Linked DNA regions of Homo sapiens. The protein of the gene in region 2 interacts with the protein of the main gene of each other region in a pairwise test. Each region holds a gene or a part of one and is shown on either strand. Other genes may lie near its edges.

Region 1 (12,587 bases), on a different chromosome or scaffold from region 2:
TCCAGTTTTTAATTTGTGGCTTTTTGCAGATGAAGAAAAGGTGGATGAACGAGCCAAGCTGAGCGTCGCCGCCAAGAGGTTGCTTTTCAGGGTAAGCTGTGCTGACGTGCTTGAATAGAGATCCCTACTGGGTGCAGTAATCCCAGCTATTTGAGAGGCCAAGGCAGGAGAATCACTTGAGGCCAGGAGTTTGAGACCAGCCTGGGCAACACAGTGAGACCCCCATCTCAAAAAAAATAAAAATTGTAAGCCTTAGGGAGGGGGAATCTTGTGGACCCAGCCTACTTCATGCACCTCTGGGCATGCTAAGGCCCTCCTGCCTCTGGCCCACCTGTTGTTCTCTTCCTAATCTTTGGCTGGTTGTGGCCACCTCATGGACACAGCATGAGTGTACACTTCTGACAACAATACGAGGTGCTCATTAGTGACCCCTCCTGTAGGTCCTGTAGGAGAACAAAGTGAAGAATTTTTACTACCCCCATTTCCTTTCCTTGAATTTCTTTGTTATTTTTAATTTTTTTTTAGAGATAGGGTCTCACTCTCTCACTCAGGGTTGAGTGCAGCAATGTGATCATAGCTCACTGCAGCCTCAACTTCCCAGGCTCAAGTGATGTTCCCACCTCAGCCTCCCAAGTAGCTGGGACTACAGGCCTGTGCCAGCATGCCTGGCTAATTTATGCATTTTTTGTAGAGATGAGGGGGTCTCACTTTGTTGCCCAGGCTGGTCTTGAACTCTTGGCCTCCAGCAATCTTCCCTCCTTAGCCTCCCAAAGTGCTGGGATTACAGGCGTGAGCCACCGTGCCCAGCTCTTTCCTTGAATTTATAAGGGTTCCACAATACTTCTAATCTTAGGAGATGGAAAAATCTTTTGATGAACAAAATGTTCCAAAGCGACGCTCAAGAAACACAGCTGTGGAGCAGAGGCTACGCCGTCTGCAGGACAGGTCCCTCACCCAGCCCATCACCACTGAAGAGGTGGTCATCGCAGCCACGTAAGTGCCCACAGGACTTCTCAGCCTTGTCTATAGTGTCTTTTTTTAAAAAAATACATTTAAAGAGTGTTCAATGAAAATGAGGCATTGGGGAGGTGATTTAGCTAGAAGCCACAGAGAAGTTAGTACTAAGGGATTTTGTTTACTGTGGTCTCTCTAAACTTTGTAATGGGATGTGTATCTTCTAGAAAAACTTGAAAGGAGTTTTTGTTCTATTTTGTTTCTGTCTCTGCATATTGATATTTTAAAAATCTCTTTGACAACGGAAAATAGAAACATGAAACTTGGTGGATTGCTGTGATGAAACCCCAGCTTCCACGGTCACCCGCTCCTGGCCGGTGATGCTCAGCCCGTGTGCCATTCATTTCCCCTTTCCTCCTGTGCTATTTTCAAGCAAACACTAGAGGTCTTACCATTTCATCCATAAATATCCCAGTACGCCCCTCTAAAAGATAAGGTTTGTTTTGTTCTTAATTGCCAGAAATCTCTTTTCTTTTTTTCTTTTTTTTTTTTTTTTTTTTTTTTTTTTGAGAGAGAGTCTTGCTCTGTCACCCAGAACGGAGTGCAGTGGCATGATCTCGGCTCACTGCAACCTCCGCCTCCTGGGTTCAAGCGATTCTCCTGCCTCCACCTCCCGAGTAGTTGGGATTACAGGCATGTGCCACCACACTCAGCTAATTTTTGTATTTTTAGTAGAGACGGGGTTTCACCATGTTGGCCAGGCTGGTCTCAAACTCCTGACCTCAGGTGATCCATGCCTCAGCCTCCCAAAGTGCTGGGATTAATTGCCAGAAATTTCTAAAAATTAAATTGCAGTTTGATAACTTTCCAAACAATAGGAAGTTTGTTTTGAATAATATGTTTCAATATATTCAGAATTAATTTCCCAGAGTAGTTCATTCAGAGATCATTGCTTCAATCAAGTGAAAAATTTTCTTATTTTTGCGGGGGGCATTGTTTGTTTTTTTGAGGCAGTGTCTCACTCTGTTACTCAGGCTGGAATGCAGTGCGCCATCTTGGCTCATTACAGCCTCAACCTCCTGGGCTCAATTGACCCTCCAACCTCAGCCTCCCAAGTAGTTGGGACTGTAGGCCCAACCACCACACCTGGCTAATTTTTGTATTTTTTGTGGTGATGGGGTTTTGCCATGTTGCCCAGTCTGATCTTAAACTCCTGGGCTCAAGCGATCCTCCCACCTCAGCCTCCCAAAGTGCTGGAGCTACAGGCGTGAGCCACTGTACCCAGCCTAGTTTTGTTGTTGTTGATGTTGTTAATTGGTTTTGTGCTTACCTTGGACACACAGACACCCTTCCTGGAAAAAAAAATAGTTCATCCCATTAGGTTATTGACATCCCAAAAGGCCTCTATGTCAGTGCCCCGTTCTGTAGACCTGCTGTTAGATCAGCTGCCTACAGTTCCTCCCCGAGTTGTTCCTCAGTTTCTTGGTGCATTTGTAGCTAAGTATATCCTTGCACTCATTAGGAACTCTTTGCAAATCAGTTTGTTTTTTAAAAAAAGAAATATTTGAATGGCTGGTGTAAAATAACAGGCAGATACCCATGGGAGCAAAACAGTAAATATAAGAAAAATTAATCCCATTTTAAGGCTCAATAAATCTACCTTGATGTGCCTATAGATTGTATAAGAACACTGATACTTTTAAAAAGTAGATTGAGGCCGGGTGCAGTGGCTCACACCTGTAATCCCAGCACTTAGGGAGGCAGAGGTGGGTGGATCACCTGAAGTCAGGAGTTCAAGACCAGCCTGGCCAACATGGTGAAACCCCGTCCCTACTAAAAAATACAAAAATATTGGCCAGGCATGGTGGCGCACGCCTGTAATCCCAGCTACTCGGGAGGCTGAGGCAGGAGAAATGCTTAAACCCAGGAGGTGGAGGCTGCAGTGAGCCGAGATCGCGCCACTGCATTCCAGCCTGGGCGACAGAGTGAGACTCTGTCAAAAAAAAAAAAAAAAAAAAAGGCTGGGCCCAGTGGCTTACACCTGTAATCCCAGCACTTTGGGAGGCTGAGGCAGGTGGATCACGAGGTCAAGAGATCAAGACCATCCTGGCCAACATGGTGAAACCTCATCTCTAATAAAAATACAAAAATTAACTGGGCGTGGTGGTGCGCGCCTGTAATCCCAGCTACTCAGGAGGCTGAGGCAGGAGAATCACTTGACCCCGGGAGGCGGAGTTTGCAGTGAGCCAAGATCATGCCACTGCACTCCAGCCTGGTGACAGAGACAGACTCCATCTCCAAAAAAGAAAAAGAAAGAAAAAAATTAGATTGGAAACAATATTCTAAAACACAGACATAATCTACTGATTTTTTGATAGCTAATATTTGCTTTTTTGAATTATTATTTTTTTTACACCAAGACATGTATTCTCAAGACAGAGTAAATCCTCCCAGCTCTGAACACCTATTCTTACCCCATTTGCTTTGGGTAGCCACTATCTCTTATTTCCTGAGTTTGTATTTGCTTTTGAAGTTCTTTCGTGATTTTTTCTCCCCAAAAATAATTAGCAAAATATTCTGTTAAAATTTTTGATTTAACGTTTCTGAATTTAAAACTATGCTGTCCTTAATGCTTCTTTTCTTCTCTCTCCTTATGAATGTTTCCTCTTTGGCAATTGCTTTTAAAGTGAACCTATCCCCGCTTCGTGTTCTGGGGGCACCCACCCTGTAATGGCGAGACTTCCTAGCCCCACTGTAGCTAGGAGCGCTGTGCAGCCTGCCAGGTACTGGACAGATACAGATGCATGCGGCACCCGGTGCAAAGGTGCCGAACAGCAGATGCATCCTAAAGTCTTGAATGTCTGTCGTTTGTTTGACAAACAAGTCAATGCCGTGAGTTGTTCCAGAATGCGTGGCATTTTGTTTTGTCATAGCACAAGGTGCTGATAACCACATGCTGGCGTGCGTGGGAAAACATTTTGTCTCTCTGCATATGTTATGTGTTAGAACTAGGATCACACTAACTCACGTATCCAGTTGCTTTGTTTGTTTTTCATAATAATGGTCATCCCTCAAAAATTTTGTTCTTCATCTAAATACTGTTATAGCACTTAATAAAGATTAATAGAAAAATGGGACATTGGCCAGGCGCGGTGGCTCATGCCTGTAATCCCAGCACTTTGAGAGGCCAAGGCAGGTGGATCACGAGGTCAGGAGATTGAGACCGTCCTGGCCAACATGGTGAAACCCTGTCTCTACTAAAAATACAAAAATTAGCTGGGCATGGTGGCATGTGCCAGTAATCCTAGCTACTTGGGAGACTGAGGCAGGAGAATCGCTTGAACCTGGGAGGCAGAGGTTGCAGTGAGTCAAGATCGTGCCACTGCACTCCCGCCTGGTGACAGAGCAAGACTCTGTCTCAAAAAAAAAAAAAAAAAAGAAAGAGAAAAAAAGAAAGAAAAAAAAAGAAAAATGAGACATTAACCTGAATGTTGAAATGCTGATAAGACCCAGTCTTTTTCAAACACCTGTAGACACAAATACAGACTGAAAACAATCCTCCCTCTTTCTAATTTATAGAGTCAATGCCATTATATTTTGGGACTGGGAAAATAACAATTTGTAGTGTCTAAACGTAGATGTTTTACTGTCGTGTTTCAGATTGTGGTGCTTTAAAATTATGTCCTCACATCAGGTCATATCCCTTCATTTTACTGTTATATGAGCCAAACCGCAAAAGCTAAAAATAATGGCAGTGCCGGGATAAAGCTGGTACACCCACAGCAGGGCCCTCCCGGAGAAGTGGGTTTCCCTGCCCTCCTGGTTACTGCACGAGGTCCACGGAGGACTCTGAGGCTCAGGTGGCTTTTTTGTCACTGGCCTCATTATACACCTGGAATATGGAAGCTGGCTACTCTTTGGCCTGGGATAGCCTGTGCATTGGGGATTCACTAGAATCAAGGCAGAATATCTCCTTTACTAGATCTGACAATTGGATCGGTCAGGGACAGAAGATATAGTGCATTACAAACCCCTAGAGATTCATATTGACCGTGAAGACTTCAGGCTTTCCTTCTCTTCTAGCTGGAAGTTGGAGGGAGCTATTTATTTATTTACTGATTTATGTATTCATTCATTTATTTTTGAGACAGAGTCTTGCTCTGTCGCCCAGGCTTCATCACTGCACACTGCAGCCTCTACCTCACAGGCTCAAGCGATCCTCCCACCTCAGCCTCCTGAGTAGCTGGGATCACAGGTGCACACCACCAAGCCTGGCTAATTTTTATATTTTTTGTAGAGATGGGGTTTCACGATGTTGCCCAGGCTAGTCTCCAACTCCTAAATTCAAGTGATCCTCTTGCCTTGGCCTTCCATAGATATGAGCCACCAGACCTGGCCAGTTGGAGGGATTTATAATCACCTGAAATTTTCTTTACTCCTCTGGTTACTGGAAATTGCAGATTTAAGTACCTTTTAGAAAACTGGTAGGAACCTATGAGAGTAAATGCTAAGCTGAAGCAGTGACTCTTTAAAAATTAAGCCATTTGTCTTTAGCAAGTAAAAATCAAGACCTTCTGTTATGTTGTTGACAGAGGACTATATCGTTTCCTAATTATTTAAAATGAAAGACCACCTTCTGAACCATATCTTTAGATAAGGTCTAAATACACCGTAGGTAATACTTTGTGACTCCCTTTCATTCTACTTATTACGATACTAACAATGCCGCCTCTCTGTCTAAGATAAGGTATAGCCAAGCTGACTTCAATGTCTTAAACAGGAAATTCGTTTTGTAGAAATAATTCGGAGCTCAAAGTCTGCTCTTTGTAGAAGTGATGATGCTAAGTGTCCTGTGCCGACTCTGCTTGTTGAGTAGCTGAACAGCTGCCTGCCTCTGTCCTAGACGTGCTTAGGGAAAAAGAAGCCCTTTGCAAAATGATGTGACACTTGGCAGAAAGTTAACGTAGAAACTTAGCGGTGTGCTTTTGTTTGTTGGTATATGTGTTGCTGACATTTTATTTTTTTCAGATTGCAGGCCTCTGCTCACCAAAAGGCCTTAGCCAAGGACCAGACAAATGAGGGCAAAGAGCTTGCTGAGCAAGGAGAACCTGATTCCTCCACTCTAAGCTTGGCCGAAAAGTTGGCCTTGTTTAACAAATTGTCCCAGCCAGTCTCAAAAGCGATTTCTACCCGGAACAGAATAGACACGAGACAGAGGAGAATGAACGCTCGCTATCAAACTCAGCCAGTCACACTGGGAGAGGTGGAGCAGGTGGGTGTGCTATAGTCCGATTGCAGTTTGTGTGTGTGTGTTCTTAAATTATAGCACTGCAGTATTCCTCTGAGGTCAATGATGTAATTAAGGTGCTCTACCAGGAAACTGCTACCTGTAGGTGATTTGGTAATAGCTTTCTTCCTAAAAATGAGAATTCTACCAAGTATGTTGCTCTTTTTTTGTTTTCATACCTTGCTTGCTGAAATATCTAGAATGAGTCCATTTTGGAGAGAAAAAAATAGTATGCCCAACTGTGTTTCACCCAGAGGATTTTGTTTAATGAGACGTATTATATAACTATGTCCAGGAATGGTTTTCCACTAAGAGAAACAGTGAAACTGCATCAAATCGAGTATTTCAGCTTCTGTCAATTCATAAACCAGGATTTATATAGATGATATTTTTCAAGCAGCTTTTTAATTTTTAACTGTGTCCTTCCAGGTGCAGAGTGGAAAGCTCATTCCTTTCTCACCTGCCGTGAACACATCAGTGTCTACCGTAGCATCCACGGTTGCTCCAATGTATGCCGGAGATCTTCGCACAAAGCCACCTCTTGACCACAATGCAAGTGCCACTGACTATAAGTTTTCTTCTTCAATAGAAAATTCGGACTCTCCAGTTAGAAGCATTCTGAAATCGCAAGCTTGGCAGCCTTTGGTAGAGGGTAGCGAGAACAAGGGAATGTTGAGAGAATATGGAGAGACAGAAAGCAAGAGAGCTTTGACAGGTCGAGACAGTGGGATGGAGAAGTATGGGTCCTTTGAGGAAGCAGAAGCATCCTACCCCATCCTGAACCGAGCCAGGGAAGGAGACAGCCATAAGGAATCTAAATATGCTGTTCCCAGAAGAGGAAGCCTGGAACGGGCGAACCCTCCCATCACCCACCTCGGGGATGAACCGAAGGAATTTTCCATGGCTAAAATGAATGCACAAGGAAACTTGGACTTGAGGGACAGGCTGCCCTTTGAAGAGAAGGTGGAGGTGGAGAATGTTATGAAAAGGAAGTTTTCACTAAGAGGTAAGTGACCAGTGCCCCTAAAGCTTTAGAAAGCCACTGGGTTTTAGTTTCTGCTTGATTTGTCCTGTGTCTATGATGGCTTTTAACAAAGTTCTATAGGCAGTTTACAGCTAGTATTGGTTAAAAGTTCAGCGGGAATCCTATTCTTCCCTGGATCTGACTAGAGGATACATCAAGTTTTCAGCAATAAAACTACTGGAAGAGCTTTCACACATCTTCATGGAGTTTCTGTTGACTTTGGTCACTCACACAATGGCCTTCTGAGCTGCTTAGTTCTGGTGGCCCCTTTTAGAAATTGATGACCCCAAAGGTCCAGGCTGGGTAAGCACAAGGAATTCAGGAAAGACTTGACCCCAGTCTCTGAATCGCTAGAGTGCTTCTTCCTGCATGCCTGTTTTGCAGGCTAGCAAGCTACACTGCGTGGGCCCTTCATCCTCTTTCTACGTTTGTATGAAACAGTACAGTGTAAGTTATAATAGGGGTTTGCGTTTGTGAGTATAGCACATTTGAATGTTAAGGTATTATTTTGGAGAATAGAACCATTCTGGAGTAAATAGTTAAAGCTGACTTCCTGTGTCTCGCACACAGGAGAGAAACCAATTGCCACGAAGCATTTTGCTGTGTGGGTAACCCTCCAGGAAGTTTGGTTTTCTCACAGAGTGTAGCGTGCTGCAGATTTGCATAAATCCCAGTGGATTGGGTCACCCGCCGTGTGCCCACGGATTGAACCCTGAGAGCTGCACTGTTGAGGGCGAATCGCTGGAAGAATGTTTGCCTGAGGAGTTCAGTGCTGATGTTGCTCTTTTCCTTCCCAGCGGCAGAGTTCGGGGAGCCCACTTCCGAGCAGACGGGGACAGCTGCTGGGAAAACTATTGCTCAAACCACAGCCCCCGTGTCCTGGAAGCCCCAGGATTCTTCGGAACAGCCACAGGAGAAGCTCTGCAAGAATCCATGTGCGATGTTTGCTGCTGGAGAGATCAAAACGCCGACAGGGGAGGGCCTTCTTGACTCACCCAGCAAAACCATGTCTATTAAAGAAAGGTAATGAGATTCGGTGAGCGAAAAGTAATTCTCTCGGGGAGGAGCTTACAGCTTGCTTTTAGAAAACAATCTCGGTGATGGGCAAAGAGATGAAATCATACATTCAGCTTCTAACAGGACTGTGCTGTTGTCCTGGAGTAATTCTAGGAAGCTGAGGTGTTTGAGAGTGAACTGCCTTTGCTCATGAGCCTGGTTTGGTAATGAGCCTGGTTTGGACAGGGCTGGTTCCAGACTCAGATGAGAAAACAAACAGAAACAGACTTCTGTTTTATTTATTTGTTTCCACTGTCCCAATATCTTTTATAATATTAAATTCTTGGACTATCTAATGACAGGAGCTGAAATCTTGGCTCTTCCCCTTTTAGATACACAGGGTTCATACTGAATGCACAAACCACTTGTGACTTTGTGTAAAATATGTGTAGAGGGAGTGAAGATAAATTTACATAGAGGGCATATATCTTTGGACTTAGAATCCAAGTTTTGTTTCTTTTACAGATTGTAAAATGGATGACTTTTCTGAACTGCATTTAGAAATTGTATGTCAGGTAATAGCTTGAAAGATTGCATTTCAGCATCAAATAACACAGTAGCCTAATTTCTTTCAAAAGAATGACGTAGGGTGCAGAGGAATATATTTAAATTAGACAGATACAGAGAACTGGAAGTAAATTACCTTGGGGATGTGTTTTCCTTGTTAACCCTTAACCACAGATGAATTAAGCAGCAAAAGATGCAATAGTGGGAATAAATTCAGAGTTTGATAGCAGAGTAGGGTGACTAAATAAAAACGTATTGTACTGAGGTGATGGACATTCTAAATAGAGGCTTGATCACTATGCATTTTATATGTGTAACAAAATTTCTCATGCACCACATAAATTTGTACAAAAAAAGGAGAAAGTATTCAGTAGGAAAAAAACATGATGGAATAGTTGATAGGAAAACTGGGTGAAGAAAAATCTTGTCAACTCCATATTAGGAGAACCATTTCCATCGCCTGTTCCCACAGTTCTGCCAACCTCCACCCTTCCTCAGCACCTCCCACCACACGGAAGTCTGCAGGCTTCACTGACCACTCTTATTTTTCTAGATACATTTCAAACTGCCTAAGACTATACTAAACCACAATGAAAAGTCTTCTTTCTTTCTTTTCCTTCTTTCCTTTTTTTTTTTTTTTTCTTTTTGAGACTAAGTCTTGCTTTGTCACCCAGGCTGGAGTGCAATGGGATGATCTTGGCTTACTGCAACCTCTGCCTCCCGGGTTCAAGCGATTCTCCTGCCTCAGCCTCCCAAGTGGCTGGGACTACAGACGCACACCACCACACCCAGCTAATTTTTTGTATTTTTAGTAGAGTTGGGGCTTCACCGTGTTAGCTAGGATGATCTCGATCTCCTGACCTCCTGATCCGCCTGCCTCGGCCTCCCAAAGTGCTGGGATTACAGGCGTGAGCCACCGTGCCTGGCCCCTTCTTTCTTTTTTTTTTTTTTTAGAGGAATGGTCTTCCTCTGTTGCCCAGACTAGAGTGCAATGGTGCTGTCACAGCTTCACTGCAGCCTCGAACTCCTGGACACAAGTGATCCTCCTGCCTCGGCCTCCCCAGTAGCTGGGACTGCAGACACGTACCACCATGCCTGGCTAATTTTTTCAAAAAGATTTTTTGTAGAGTTGGGAGGTCTCACCATGTTGCCCAGGCTGGTCTCGAACTCCTGGCCTCAAACAGTCCTCCCACCTCAGCCTTCCAAAGTGCGGGGATTACAGACATGCACCACCACACCTGGCCCTTCTTTCTAGTTTTAAGCCAAGCTTCTTGAACATTATTTGTAAAATAATAGATGCTATCTTTTTCAACTGACAAATTAATCACATTGTTAAATCTGACTTACTTTCTCCTTTACTTACTTAAAATTCATGATAAGTTAGACCTGGCAGGCTGAGGGGCATAGGGAAGGGGCAGAGGGGACAGTGCAATGAGGAGAGGGATGTCTTCAATCGGGGAAGCAGTTGGGCCTATTGAGGCTTGAAGTTCTCTTCCACGAAAATGGGGCTCAAAGAGAGTTTCATCCCAGAAACCCAAATATTGACAACTGGTTAGGTGAGGAAGAAGAGAGATCATTTAAGGAAATTAACAATAAATATCACTTATACACAAGTTCTGATGTTTTACACATGAGAAAATATCCCTGGGGTATTCCCCAGTGGGAAATACTAATATTATGCCCCCTTCTTTCAAAGGCTTTTAAAGGAGCCTTCCCATCTTTGGGAATATTCTGTCCATCTGGACTTAGGACTTTTGATGAAGAAGTCCTGTGTCTATCCACTAAGCAATAATTCCTGATTTACTTACCTGTTTTTTGGTAAATTTTAGTTGACCTGTATTTTTCTGAAAGCTTTAATCCTACTGTAAAATTCTCATTTTTAAAAGTGAGATACTGGAAAGACGTAGCTTCTTAGCTTGGGCTTTGTGGACATGTAAGGCGTTCAAGGATGGCTGTAAAGTTTCTGTGAACAGCCCGGAAGTGTATTCAGAATTGAATGGGTGAGCACACACACCTGCTGGCTAACAGAAGCCATAACTTATCATGGTCTCCAAGAGATCCCTGAGCCCAGTCTGTTCAGAATCATGATAGAAAGGAATGCTTGATTGATATTCAGCTATTCAGTTTGTTAAAATACATTTATGAAAGAACAAGGGACACTTTATTTAGCAGCTATGCTTGTAATAAATTACACTAATGCAAAATATATTGCCAGTGATCTTTTCCCCCTTACCTTCACAGTACTTTTATTTGTACTTTGCTGAAAGTGACTAAATTACATATATTTACAATTCATCCATGATAGCTTTTCCATGAGACTTTAATCCCTCCCTTTTGTGAAAATGAAATAATGAAGCTTAAACTATTTAAAATAAGAATGTTATTCCTCCATTTATTTGGGCTTTACTTTTCCTTCTTGAGAAAGAAATATATAAAATCATAGGACTTCCAAACTTTATTCTAACCGCCTCTGACTGCCTCATTTTACCAAAGGAGGGATTCGGCTCCGGTAGCCTCCAGGGCCACGTAGTGAATAGAGCTGACCCAGGGGCCACGTCTCCAACTCTCCCCTGGTCCATGGTGAGACCGCGGTGCGCTCAGATTAGTGTTAGAGCAGCCAACCCCGTGTGCTCTAACCAGGAGAATACGGTGAGAGGACAGAAATCCCAGCTAGACAGCAGTGTTAGAAAGACACACCTTCTTTCTTCATGAATTTTCTCAGTTCACATGCTCTTAACAGGGCTTATATTTCAAATTACACATCCAAGTTCACATTTCAGAGTCTCAGAAATAGAGTCTGGAATTTGCAGATTTCCTTCATCGTTTTTTATAAATGCCTGTCCCCACTAAGGAGGGCAGGTCTGTCTTCTTCAGCCTTGTTGTGTCAGTCTCTCCCCTGTCCAGGGCCTGACTATATTAAGTTCTCAGTGCTCAGTGCTACCCAGCGTCACAGACTGCCTTCCACATTTTGTACATGATCTCTCATTTAATTTTTGTCTGTTTGTTTGTTTTTTGAGATGGAGTCTCGCTCTGTCACCCAGGCTGGAGTGCAGAGGCACGATCGCGGCTCACTACAACCTCCGCCTCCCAGGTTCAAGTGATTCTCCTGCCTCACCCTCCTGAGTAGCTGGGATCACAGGAGCCCACCACCATAACCAGCTAATTTTTGCATTTTTAGTAGAGGCGGGGCTTCACCATGTTGGCTACGCTGGTGTCGAATGCCTGACCTCAGGTGATCTGCCTGCCTCAGCCTCCCAAAGTGTTGGGATTACAGGCGTGAGCCACTGCGCCCGGCTTTCATTTAATATTGAAGACAGCCTCCAGAAGAAAGCAATATTATCCCCATTTGTAGACAAAAAGCATAGAAACTAAGAAATTATAGGAAAACCTCCATACACTCCTTTTTTAGAATATGTTTGATGCTCAAGGAAACATATTAAAAAGTTATTTTTATATTTATTTATTTATTTGTTTATTTTCTGAGACAAGAGTCTCACTCTGTAGCCCACGCTGGAGTGCAGTGACACGATCTTGGCTCACTGAAGCCTCCCCCTCCTGGGTTCAAGCGATTCTCCTGCCTCAGCCTCCCAAGTAGCTGGAATTACAAGCACTTACTACCATGCCTGGCTAATTTTTGTATTTTTAGTAGAGACAAGGTTTCACCATATTGGCCAGGCTGGTGTCAAACTCCTGACCTCCAGTGATCCACCCGTCTAGGCCTCCCAACGTGCTGGGATTGCAGACGTGATCACCACACCC
Region 2 (12,587 bases):
GTCTCGCTCTGTTGCCCAGACTGGAGTGCAGTGGCACAATCTCAGCTCACTGCAACCTCTGCCTCCCAGGTTCAAGCGATTCTCCTCCCTCAGCCTCAAAAGTAGCTGGGATTACAGGTGCCCACCACCATGCCCGGCTCATTTTCATATTTTTAGTAGAGACAGGGTTTCGCCATATTGGCCAAGCTGGTCTTGAACTCCTGACTGCAGGTGATCTGATCTGCCCACCTCAGCCTCCCAAAGTGCTGGGATTACAGGCGTGAACCACTGCACCCAGCCGTGTATCATTTTTAAAAGAAAAATAAGGCCAAGCATGATGGCTTACACCTGTAATCCCAGCACTTTGGGAGACCAAGGTGGGAGAATCACTTGTGGCCAGGAGTTCGAGACCACCCTGGGCAACACTGCAAGGCCCTGCCTCTACAAAAAAATTTTAAAAATTAGCCAGGTGTGGTGGTGCATGCCTGTAGTCCTAGCTTACTCAAGGGGCTGAGGCCTCAGAGGTCAAGACTACAGTGAGCTATGATTGTGCCAATGCACTCCAGCCTGAGTGACAGAATGAGACCCTGTCTCAAAAAAATTAAAAGAGAAACCTAAGAAGAGAATCAAACTCTATCTCAATTTTTTTTTTTTTGAGACACAGTCTCACTCTGTTGCCCTGACTGGAGTGCAGTGGTGCAATCTCAGCTCACTGCAACCTCCAACTCTTGGGTTCAAGTGAACCTCCTGCCTCAGCCTCCAAGTAGCTGAGATTGCAGGCACACCACCACAACCGGCTAATTTTTTTGTATTTTTAGTAGAGACAGGGTTTCACCACATCGGCCAGGCCGGCCTCAAACTCCTGACCTCAAGTGATCTGCCCACCTTGGCCTCCCAAAGTGCTGAGATTACAGGCATGAGCCACTGTTCTCGGCCTCAAAATATCTTTGAATTAGGCCGGGCCCATGTGCCTGTAATCCCAGCTACTCAGGAGGCTGAGGCAGGAGAATCAGTTGAACCAGGGAGTTGGAGGCTGCAGTGAGCCGAGATTGCGTCACTGCGCTCCAGCCTGGTGACACAGCGAGACTCCGTCTCCAAACTAGATAAATAAAAGATTAGCCAAGACAACCCCACACCTTTTAAAAAATGATCACATTGGCAGGTATTTTTTTTTATTATTCTTTTTCAGAGACGGAGTCTTGCTCTGTCACCCAGGCCGAGTGCAGTGGCACGATCTCAGCTCAATGCAACCTCCACCACCCAGGTTCAAGCGATTCTCATGCCTCAGCCTCCCGAGTAGCTAGGACTGCAGGCGTGCACTACCACGCCTGGCTAATTTTTTGTATTTTTAGTAGAGATGGGGTTTTGCCATGTTGGCCAGGCTGGTCTTGAACTCCTGACCTCGTGATCCGCCCACCTCGGCCTCCCAAAGTGCTGGGATTACAGGCATAAGCCATTGCGCCTGGCCATGGCAGGTTTTTTTTTGTTTTTTTTGTTGTTGTTGTTTTCCCAAACATACAGGTTTCAGGATGGGGAAGAGCTTATCTTCATACACGGCAGGTAGGAGTAGAAATTGTCTCAAACATCCTGGGTTACAACTTGACATATATCCAAATCCTTAGAAATTTGCATTTCTTTGGACCTAGCATTTTTATTTCTGGGAATGACTCCTAAGGCAATACTTACACGTGCAAAGAGATATGTTTAAGAACTTTATTGCAGCCTTATTTATGATATCCAAAATTAGAAGCAACCCAAATTTCTACTAAAACATTCTTGGTTAAATACGTTACTGCTGATGGAATATTGTACGTTAATTTAAAAGGATGTTATAGAAAGATATTTCATAACATGAAAAGTTCAATTGAAAGTTTATTTTTTTTTTTTTTTAAGACTGAGTCTTGCTCTATTACCCAGGCTGGAGTGCAGTGGCACCATCTTGGCTCACTGCAACCTCCACCTTCCAGGTTCGAGCAATTCTCCTGCCTCAGCCTCCCGAGTAGCTGGAATTACAGGCGCCCACCCCCACACCATGCCCGGCTAATTTTTGTACTTTAGTAGAGACGGGGTTTCACCATGTGGGCCAGGCTGGTCTCGAACTCCTGACCTCAGGTGACCCGCCTGCATCAGCCTCCCAAAGTGCTGGGATTACCGGCATGAGCCACCACGCCCAGCCTATAAATTATTGACTAATATTTATCAGAACAAAAAGACAAAGTCAGAAAAAAAGAAGTTGGGGGCTGGGCACAGTGGCTGGAACTCCTGACCTCAGGTGATACACCAGCCTCAGCCTCCCAAAGTGCTGGGATTATAGGCGTGAGCCCCTGCGCCCGGCCTACGGCTCACTTTTTGAACCTCTACAGCTATTCAGTTTCCAAAGTGTAACCATTTTATCTGCTTGCTAATGGAAAGGAGTTCAGAAATAAATTACAGATTTGAGGAGGGAGAAATCAAACAAAAAGAGAGGCAATCTGTGAGCACTAACTTAGTGTAAAATCTGTTGAAAAGCATATTGCCATTTGCTCTCAAGTTAGTTTCTTGAAAATACAAGGGCATGAACACCTTCTTCTCTAAGTCTAAAGGTAAAATCAATTTTTATTCCTGAAAGCTAGCTTGCAGTTATAAAATTGCTATAATCAAACACTTCCCGTAAAAGCTAAAAGTTTTGACTGCTGCTTCAGTGTGTCTAATTTTCACTGTGCCATGATTTTTTAAACCCCTCTTAGATAACTGGAACACTGACTGGCATCAAGCCTCTAAAGCAGATTCAAGCTAAGACATTTCACCTGATTTAATCTTGTCTGTAAAGTGATTCGTCCTCCAGGAGAAGGCATCCTGCTTAGTGCTGCCTCAATCTGTTAACACACGAAAAAAATATGTTTAAATTACTGGCAGGGAGGTTTATCACACAGAATGGAAAGAAAAGGTTTTGGCTTAGTATTTCCTTGTCCATTTCATCTCAACTTAATTTCCCTCTGTCAATTAGTAACGACCACATGGCTCAAATCCGTTGCTAGCACAGCTCTGGTATGTTATCCCATTGTAATTTCCTGAGACAGGTTTGACTCAATAATTCCCTTCTCCTTAGACATAAGCATTAAGTTCAGAAAACAATTTTTAAAAATATTTGTTTGTTTTTACCTGGTCCTTTTCTTTTGTAAGTTCATCAAAAAATCGTTCTGTTTCAGCTAGGGTCCGAATTTTTGCTGTATATTCAAAATCATTCCCCTGTGGAGTGACTGAAACCGGCTTACACTGTTCGTAGCTAACTGATTTATTCTTCTCCCAGGCTGTTCTCACAGATACTTTCTTCACTCCATTTGGCACCGGTTCAGGGCAAGAGCTATGATTAACATGGTTATCGGTGGCTTTCTCAGAATAAGTTTTTTCTGTCAGAGAGGAGAGAAATTGCTTATATTTCTTATCAATTTTTCGTGTAGGTTGCATATATATTAAATATGTTGCCCAATTTCACTTTCTGGATATAGCTGCTATGTGGCCCAAAAAAGTAATGAAAAGAGATACAATAATCAATCTTATTTACTCAGTGCTTTTTTCTCCAAAGAATTCTGAAAGCTTTGCCCTCTGTTTGACAATCTTTGCAACTTCCCTTAATGAACTTAAGCAAACTTCATGTAAACATAAATGAACTTTAAGTAAACTTAAAGCAAAAAAAAAAAAAAAAGCTTAAAAACTAAATAATACATCACATTTAGTGGACATACACCAACACTAAACAGTTAATGTTTTGAGGGCCTACCCAAGTGATTTCACATACATTGTCTTATAGCTTTATTCCAAATTTAGAATATAAATGAGAAAAAAAAAGTTACCCAAAGCCTAAGCTGCATATAGAGAATAAAAGTAAAGAGAATAACTGAGCAGTGTGGCCCTGGTAATTAAACATCAACATTCCCTGTACCTCAGTTTCCCAACTTTTCAATGAGGATAACAACATTGACATAACAACACGTAGCATCATGAGTGCTTAGTTTCAGACGCCCTTGAGTGGGAAAATATTTAAGTGCAAGATATTATAATATTTAGAACACTGAGAGATACCAGAATCTCAAAAAATGAATGATTAAAACCATAACTAATATTTTTTAGGAAAAGATACCTTCCGAGTCATCTAGAGGAAGAAACTGGAGTTGCTTTCTTGGATTGGTACGTTGTAATGTAGACACAGGAACAGTATCTAAATCATCCAAAAGTATATCAAATCTATTGAATGAAGCAAGTTACTTGTGAGAAAAAAAATGTTAACTGATTTTCCCTATCTCCACTACAAAGATGAGCTGGCATCCAGCTAACTCACATATTTATGTATTTTCTTAAAAGAAAGCTGGTTATGTAATTGTCTAAAACTGAAATTTATTTCTATTTTCTAACAAAATTGTATTTACAAACTAAAGACTTAAAACACTTACCCATACATTATCTCATTTGATATTTATAAAAACCTTATGAAATAAGCAGGGTAGTTATTATTATCCCCGTTTTATAGAAGAGGAAACTGAGGTTCAATGTGCTTAACTCATCTCCGCAAGAGCCTGACAGAGTTGGGTCTGGAACCAAGAAGCAACATCCCTCCCCGCTAATAGCACACACAGCTGCCCACACTTCGGAGGGGACAGATTCTCAGCAGCACAGGTAAACATGCATTTGGTGCCAGGGCCATACCAGTAAAGCCCACTTTCCTGTACAAATGGCCCAAAAGTTTTCCCGTATCATAAACCTTTTCAGGAAAACAAAGAACTATCATTCTACATACAAAAGCTGACAGGGGTGCTGAGGTGATAATTTAAAATCTAGTAGTAGCAAGTTTACATAGTTAAAAACTGTGTTCATTGTACTGCAGTACTTTAGTTGTAGTATGACATTCACTTATGATTTAAATGAAATTCACAGAGTTCCCACTGGTAACTGAAAAATTAGTGATAGCTAGAGACATAAGTCAACATTTAGAAAAAAATCACTAATATAGTAAACTTTATTCTACAATTTTAGAGAACTTACCGAATTGGACTGCTCTCATTTTTGCTAAGCAGATGACTAAATCCTGGGGACAAGTTTTCTTTAGGGGATCGCTTTGGACTATAAGCCACAGTCACTGGTGTTAGCATAATCTCTCTTTTTGCTATAGAAGAAAATGAAGAGGAAATATTCTTTTCCTTCTATATGTATCAGCATAACAGTTTCTTATTCAGTATTTTTTTTCTAATTTTGAAAGGAATATAATTTCAACGTAAAACTTTGAGAGAGAAATAAGAGTGTACAAAAAAATAAAATCACTCATAATCCTAACACCTAGAGGTAACCACTGTAACACTGTAGTATATCAGACAGTACTTTCAGCACTCTGACTCAAAACTGGTTTTTCAGGATTTTAGAAGTCGACTGGAAATAAGATGGAAACAGCAGTACACTACTGAACATTCCTATAACACAATAATAAGAATCTCCTCAGCTGGTGTGAAAACGGAAATTCAGGACAGGAATTCAATGCTTCAACTTTAAAACCAACCTGTTATTGGCTAAAGAAAAATGGTGACTAATGCTAAGTACTTGAGATCAAATACATAAGAAGTATATTTGAGACTAGCTTGGATTAATTTGATTGAATTAATGTTTGGATAGCTGGCATTTTTAAGTATTAGTTGCAAACAATTTAGTGGACACAATAAATTATTAGTATTAGTTGTAAACAATTTACTGGACACAATAAAAAATCTCACTTTAATAAACAGATTTCTTCATTTACATTTGTAGTATCTATGTGATCAGACAATTTTATTTATGAACAAGATCTTATTTAGGGGTCCTCTGCTCAGAGTACTCTACTAGGTGCTGAGGATACAAGAGAAACCAGAAACAGGCAAGCAGCGGGCACAAATAGATTTGACTCAGAGATCACGCTTTTGAACCCAAGAGATGTACACATCTAACTCTTACTTGGAGTACTTGATTTACGATTTGAAGGTGGTAAAGATGATGATCTCTGTGAGGCCGAATTAAGTCTCTTTTGTCTCTGTTGGGCACACTTTTCTGGAGAACGACTTGCATTAACTGAAGTTTCAGTTTGCCGAGGATTTACTACAGCAGACCAAAAAAAAGCAAAACAAAAAACAAATCAAAACAAGCCTACGCTTCAGTTATCCACCTTTATTAACAGGTGGTTACACATGGTTACACACCAAGCCCCACAGCTTAGGTTCTGCTCAAAGCATTTATTCTCACCAGCTAGGTTATAGTGACTATTTGCAAATGCACCACATTATAATGATAAAAAATGCTTGATGAAGAAAAATATGGGAGTTTATAATGAATTCATTCTGGCTCCCTGTTTACAATCGGCATTCAAGGTGATTTTCAAGAGGGTTATTTTTAGAAAGCAGGTTACTAATTTATTTACTAAGAGACACTGCTTGGGAGATGTAACCGCAAAGACGCTGGCAGGATGACTAAGGGGTCTGAGAAAGCAAGCATAGTGGAAAAGGAGAGAAATGTATTGGTGACCTGGACCTGTGAAAAAACACAGTATTAAAGACACTACTTGCCTTATCTACAGATGCTCAGTAACCAAGAAAGAAGAGGAAATGTTATATCTCACTTCATGAATACCAAATGCCTATCACAGCCTTCTGATGTGTGCAAGTAAGATGGACTGACAGGAATTTTTCAAATATCCTTAGGAATGCCATGTAAGGCCAGGAGCAGTGGTTCACGCCTGTAATCACAACACTTTGTGTTTACACTTTGTGTTGTGTTGTGGAGGACAAGGCGGGTGGACCACTTGAAGCCAGGAGTTCGAGACCAACCTGGCCAACATGGTGAAACTCCGTCTCTGTTAAAAATATTAAAATTAGCCGGGGGTGCTGGAGGGCACCTGTAATTCTAGGTACTTGAGAGGCTGAGGCAGGATGATAGCTTGAACCCTGGAGATGGAGTTTGCAGTGAGCTGAGATTACGCACTGCACTCCAGCCTGGGCAAAAGAGTGAGACTCTGTCTCACTGTCTCAAAAAAAAAAAAAAAAAAAAAAGAATGCCATGTAAGCCTTTTTCATAATCGGAATGTAAGATTCAACTGGCTTTGTACAAAAGGTACATGTTATGCCAGAACTGTGATAAATTATTAACTAGGACATTCAATTCTCTATGAAACGGGGCTGAAGTAGCAGTAAAATAGCAAGTTTACAGAGCTAAAACTTTTAATTTCATTACCTAAATATTTTAATTTTAACGAAGGTAATATAAATGGGGAAAAGATATCTATATCCATCTATCTCAAACAAGGAAATACTCACTATTTGAGGTGTCCTCTTTCTCTGTCTGTGTCCCCCAATTTTTAAATATTTTTCCCTCATCAAGTTCTTTTAAAGCTCTCATGATCGGCGTGTCTGAAGTCTCTCTTTGCTTTTTTATCAACAAGCTTGTTGATGAACTTCCAGGTGAAGAATCCTTTTCCAGAGGTGAACGGTGCCTTAAACAATAATTTTAAGACATACAGTGCTATGGACTAAATGTCTGTATCTTGCCCCCCGCCCCCACACCAAACATACATGTTGAAGCCCTAATCTTCAATGTGATGGTGTGTGGAGGTGGGGTCTTTACGAGGTAATTAGGGTTGGATGAGGTCATGAGGGTGAAGCCTCCAAGATGGGATTAATGCCCTTATGAAAAAGGGAAAGAGGCAGGAGCGCTCTCTCTGTGCACACACACCAAGGAAAGGCCATGTGAGGACATAACCAGGAAGAGGGCCCTCACCAAACACTCAGCACCCTGATCTTGCACTTCCAGCCTCCAGAGGTAGAGAAAGAAATGTGTGTTGTTTATGCCACCCAGTCTACGGTAATTTGTTATAACAGTCCAAGCTAAAACACACACTTTACTGGGGTTGTTAGGGGAATAACAGAGTTGACAATTATACTCCACAATGAGCATGCTTTGCAATGCAAATAAATTAAACCTGCATACAGTGCTTTCCCATCCTTCTAGTCCTACACTTAGAGGAACAGCATCTGCACAGCACCCTGGAGTAAGCGGCTGAGGCTGCTCACGCAGGCTCGGGGCTCGGGCTGGCCAGAGCCATCTGAAGTGGGAGAGGATCTACATCTTTTGTTTGTTTTTAGACAAGGTCTCACTCTGTCACCCAGGCTGGAGTGCAGTGGCACAATCATAGCTCACTGTAGCCTTGAGCTCCCCAGGCTCAAGTAATCCTCCCACCTCAGCCTCCCAAGTAGCTAAAACTACAGGCGCATGTCACCATGCCCGGCTAATATATTTATTTTTTGTAGAGGTGGGATTTTGTCATGCTGCCCAAGCTGGTCTCGAACTCCTAGGCTCAAGCGATCCTCCACGTTGGCCTCCCAAAGTGTTGGGATTACAGGCGTGAGCCACCACACCTGGCCTGAGGATCGACATCCTATCCTAATCACAAACCCATACTGTGCCACTGAGCACAGGTGGGGAAGCTTGGCAGAGCTCATGGAAGTAAAATATTCTAAAAGTAGTAGCCTTTCAAAGTAAAATAAAAGTCAGGTTCTCAAAATTAAGACATTAAAGAACCAAAGAGAGGGCTTCCCAAACTTTTAAAAGCAATTGAAATCTCTAAGAAAACATAACATCCCTAAATAGAATCTTTAGCAAAGTTATCTCACCCTAGGCTACAGGTTTCCTCCAGCTGGTTATCCACGTTACTGTCCTGGGTGTCCAGAGGCTGGCCAGTAAAGATGGAATACTCTGCACCTGGAATCAGCCATTTCCGCCTGCTGACGTCTGAAGTTGCTAGTGTGCTATTAGAATGAAAACGGTCAGGCATTATAAAGGTCTGCACTTCATTTCAGACTGCATGTGCATATAAAACAATCTGCTCTCAAACAGTATTTACACATTTGTACACTAATTTAAAAATCACATGTAACAATCTATATTTTGGATACAATTTATTTTACAGTTTTATGATTCAACTTAACTGTTGTTCTAGGTTTCTGTTACTTCTGAATCTCAGTCAAGATTCAGGTACTTGCGGCTCTGAACATTCCCCTCACTGTCTCTCAGGCATTTCACACCCTTTACACTCTGTGCCCCTACTGTAGCTGAGGGTAAAGTGCTGAAGGAAGCAGGGCTGCCCTTCTTGTTCCCTTCAGACCAGCACTGTCCAACAGAATCTTCTGCAAAACCAGAAATGCTATCTGCACTGTCCAATGCAGCAGTCACAAGTCAGGTGTCACTACTGAACACCTGAAATGTGGCTGCTGAGACTGAAGAACCAATTATAAAACGTTAATTTTAATAATGAAAGTTTTCAGTATCAAAATGGAGTCACTAATGTCAAACTCCCAAAAAATGGAGCTGGGAGGCACAAAGGAGCAGCCTCTCACACAGATGCTGATTATGGGAACTATTCTGAATTCCTCAGAACGACAGTATTCCAGATAATAAGCTGCTTGTACAAGGAAACATCCCTAACAAGGGATGTCTCCACCACTGAGCTAATGCTAATGCCTGCAACATGCTCCTGTAACCAGTGGTCTTTGTTTTAAAATAGCTTAGTGGACTGTGGACTGCCCTTTGTCTTTTAAAGTTTCCTGTGTCCCAACCCCTTTGGACATGCTTATGGTTCACCACAGCATGCGTACTCCAGCTTGCAAACCCCCAACATTTCCAAATAAATTTCTTTGGAGAGTCAGTCTCTGTCACTGATTTTAGGTTGACATGATTGATTTAAATAGTAATAGTGGCTGTTGGCAGGACTGTACTGAACAGCGCAATTCTAGACATTGCTCCCCCAGCTCATCTGAGGTTCCCACCATCATGTTAACCCCCAGTCATTCCCCAGACTTTAGAGCCTGCCTTGTTTTCTCCACACCTATGCCTGTTCTCACACTAGGCAACTTCCTGACCACTCTCTCCAGTGAGGTGACCCTCTACTCCTCAGCCAGCCACCTCAGAGGGTACTTGCTGGCTTTTGTCAAAACCAGAGAACACACTCCCCTTAAGAAACCAATACTCCAAAGACTGTGCCCCTATTCTGCCTCCCGCCCTCAAGCTTCAGCAACGTGACCTACGATCCTTGGCCTCTCCATTTTCCATTTATCAACCCCTCCTAGTCTGACTAGGTCCTCTTGATCTACCCTGAAGTCCACACTCACGATACTTTCTCTCTCACCTTTCACCACACCTGACTGGCAGCAAAATCTGAGGACTGGCTGACTACAAAGGCCGCGCTTCAGGTCTCAACTCCTACCACTGAGCTTTGCTGGAAAAAAGCCACCAGCTGGGCAGACTCATCACCACCTCAAGCGGACACCCCAAACCGCCTGACCGCCTGGCAACATGACTTTCTTTTTTTTTTTTTTTTTTGAGACGGAGTCTCGCTCTGTCACCCAGGCTGGAGTACGGTGGCGTGATCTCGGCTCACTGCAAGCTCCGCCTCCCAGGTTCAAGCGATTCTCCTGCCTCAGCCTCCCAAGTAGCTGGGACTACAGGCGCCTGCCACCACGCCCGGCTAATTTTTTTGTATTTTTAGTAGAGACGGGGTTTCACCGTGTTAGCCAGGATGGTCTCGATCTCCTGACCTCATGATCCGCCCACCTCAGCCTCCCAAAGTGCTGGGATTACAGGTGTGCGCCAACGCACCCGGCCGGCAACATGACTTTCTGTAACCAGCAAGCTTCAGTTCTCCAAACATGACTATCTCACACCCTTTCCACCCTCCTCAAACCTCCCATCCCACCTTCGTTGACAGGTGAAACTTTTGAGTCAAATTCAAAGAAACACCAGAAACCATGAAACAACTCTTGTTTTCTCTCTGTCCCCTTTCACAACCAAACATTTTAGAGGCTGCCTCTTCTATCTACATTCACTTCAACTCCAGTCACTCTTTCCCTCAGTTTTTTTTTTTTTGAGACAGAGTCTCACTCTGTCGCCCAGGCTGGAGTGCAGTGGCGCGATCTCGGCTCACGGCAAGCTCTGCCTCTTGGGTTCACACCATTCTACTGCTTCAGACTCCCGAGTAGCTGGGACTACAGGCGCCCACCACCACGCCCGGCTAATTTTTTGTGTTTTTAGTAGGGATGGGGTTTCACCATGTTATTAGCCAGGATGGTCTTGATCTGCTGACCTCGTGATCCACCCACCTTGGCCTCCCAAAGTGCTGGGATTACAGGCGTGAGCCACTGCGCCCGGCCCAGTTTTTAAATTAAGAACTATTTCAGGGCCAGGCTCAGTGGCTCATGCCTATAATCCTAGCACTTTGAGAGGCCAAGGCGGGCAGATAACGAGGTCAGGAGCTCGAGACCACCCTGGCTAACATGGTGAAACCCCGTCTCTACTAAAAATGCAAAATAAAAATTAGCCAGGTGTGGTGACGGGCACCTGTAGTCCCAGCTACTCAGGAGGCTTAGGCAGGAGAATGGCATAAGCCCAGGAGGCGGAGTTTGCAGTGAGCCGAGATTGCACCACTGCACTTCAGCCTGGGCAACAGAGCGAGACTCCGTCTTAAAAAAAAAAAAAAATCTTCAAACATTCTTGGAAAATTACAAAGAATACTATAACAAGCATCTACTCACCCATTCTCAGTTTTAATAAATGCTAAGATCTTGCCAATTTTTTTTTTTCTTGAGATGGAGTTTTCCTCTGTCACCCAGGCTGGAGTGCAGTGGCGTGATCTCAGCTCACTGCAACCTCTGCCTACCAGGTTCAAGCAATTCTCCTGCCTCAGCCTCCACAGTTGCTGGGATTACAGGGGCCCACCACTGTGCCCAGCTAATTTTTGTATTTTTAGAAGTGACGGGGTTTCACCATGTTGGCCAAACTCCTAACCTTAAGTGATCTGCCCACCTTGGCCTCCCAAAGTGCTGGGATTACAGGTGTGAGCCACGTGCCCAGCCCGATCTTGCAAAATTTGTTTTTAATTATAAGACCAATTTTTATATATTTAATTACACAGAAGGCATAATGTATTAATACACATTTTTAAATGTCTTTTTTTTTTTTTGAGACAGGGTTTTACCCTGTCCCCCAGGCTAAAGTGCAGTGGCATGATCATGGCTCAGTACAGCCTCGACCCCTCAGGCTCAAGTGATTCTCCCACCTCAGCCTCCCGAGCAGCTGGGACTACAGGCGCGTACCACCAACCACCACACCCAGCTTTTTTTTTTTTAAGACAGAGTCTCGCTCTGTCACCCAGGCTGGAGTACAGTGGCTCGATGTCGGCTCACTGCAACCTCCGCCTCTCAGGTTCAAACCATTCTCCTGCCTCAGCCCTGTGAGTAGCTGGGATGACAGCTGCGTGCCACCACATCTGGCTAATTTTTTTGTATTTTTAGTAGAGACGGGGTTTCACCATGTTGGTAAGGCTGGTCTCAAACTCTTGACCTCATGATCCACCTGCCTCAGCCTACCAAAGTGCTGGGATTATAGGCGTGAGCCACTGTGTCTAGCCGCTAACTTTTTATATTTTTTGTAGAGACAGGGTTTTGCCATGTTGCCCAGGCTGGTCTCAAACTCCTGGGCTCAAGCAATTTCCCCACCTTGGCCTCCCAAAATGCTGAAATTATAGACGTGAGCCACCACACCTGGCCTTTAATGCTTTCTCTGTTCAA

Evidence for each region.
Region 1: the proteins of MPHOSPH9 (region 2) and SVIL interact in a two-hybrid assay, tested with the Homo sapiens proteins (one study listed by BioGRID).

What each region holds. Positions count from the first base shown.
Region 1 is NC_000010.11:29,518,111-29,530,697, reverse strand, and holds part of SVIL (supervillin), read left to right. Parts: intron 1-29; coding exon 30-91; intron 92-853; coding exon 854-993; intron 994-3,641; coding exon 3,642-3,737; intron 3,738-5,982; coding exon 5,983-6,226; intron 6,227-6,670; coding exon 6,671-7,247; intron 7,248-8,062; coding exon 8,063-8,288; intron 8,289-12,587.
Region 2 is NC_000012.12:123,158,016-123,170,602, forward strand, and holds part of MPHOSPH9 (M-phase phosphoprotein 9), read right to left. Parts: intron 8,775-12,587; coding exon 8,640-8,774; intron 7,463-8,639; coding exon 7,287-7,462; intron 6,087-7,286; coding exon of another isoform or gene 6,076-6,086; coding exon 5,935-6,075; intron 5,120-5,934; coding exon 4,999-5,119; intron 4,204-4,998; coding exon 4,100-4,203; intron 3,369-4,099; coding exon 3,121-3,368; intron 2,835-3,120; coding exon 2,766-2,834; intron 1-2,765. UniProt on the Homo sapiens protein: Negatively regulates cilia formation by recruiting the CP110-CEP97 complex (a negative regulator of ciliogenesis) at the distal end of the mother centriole in ciliary cells.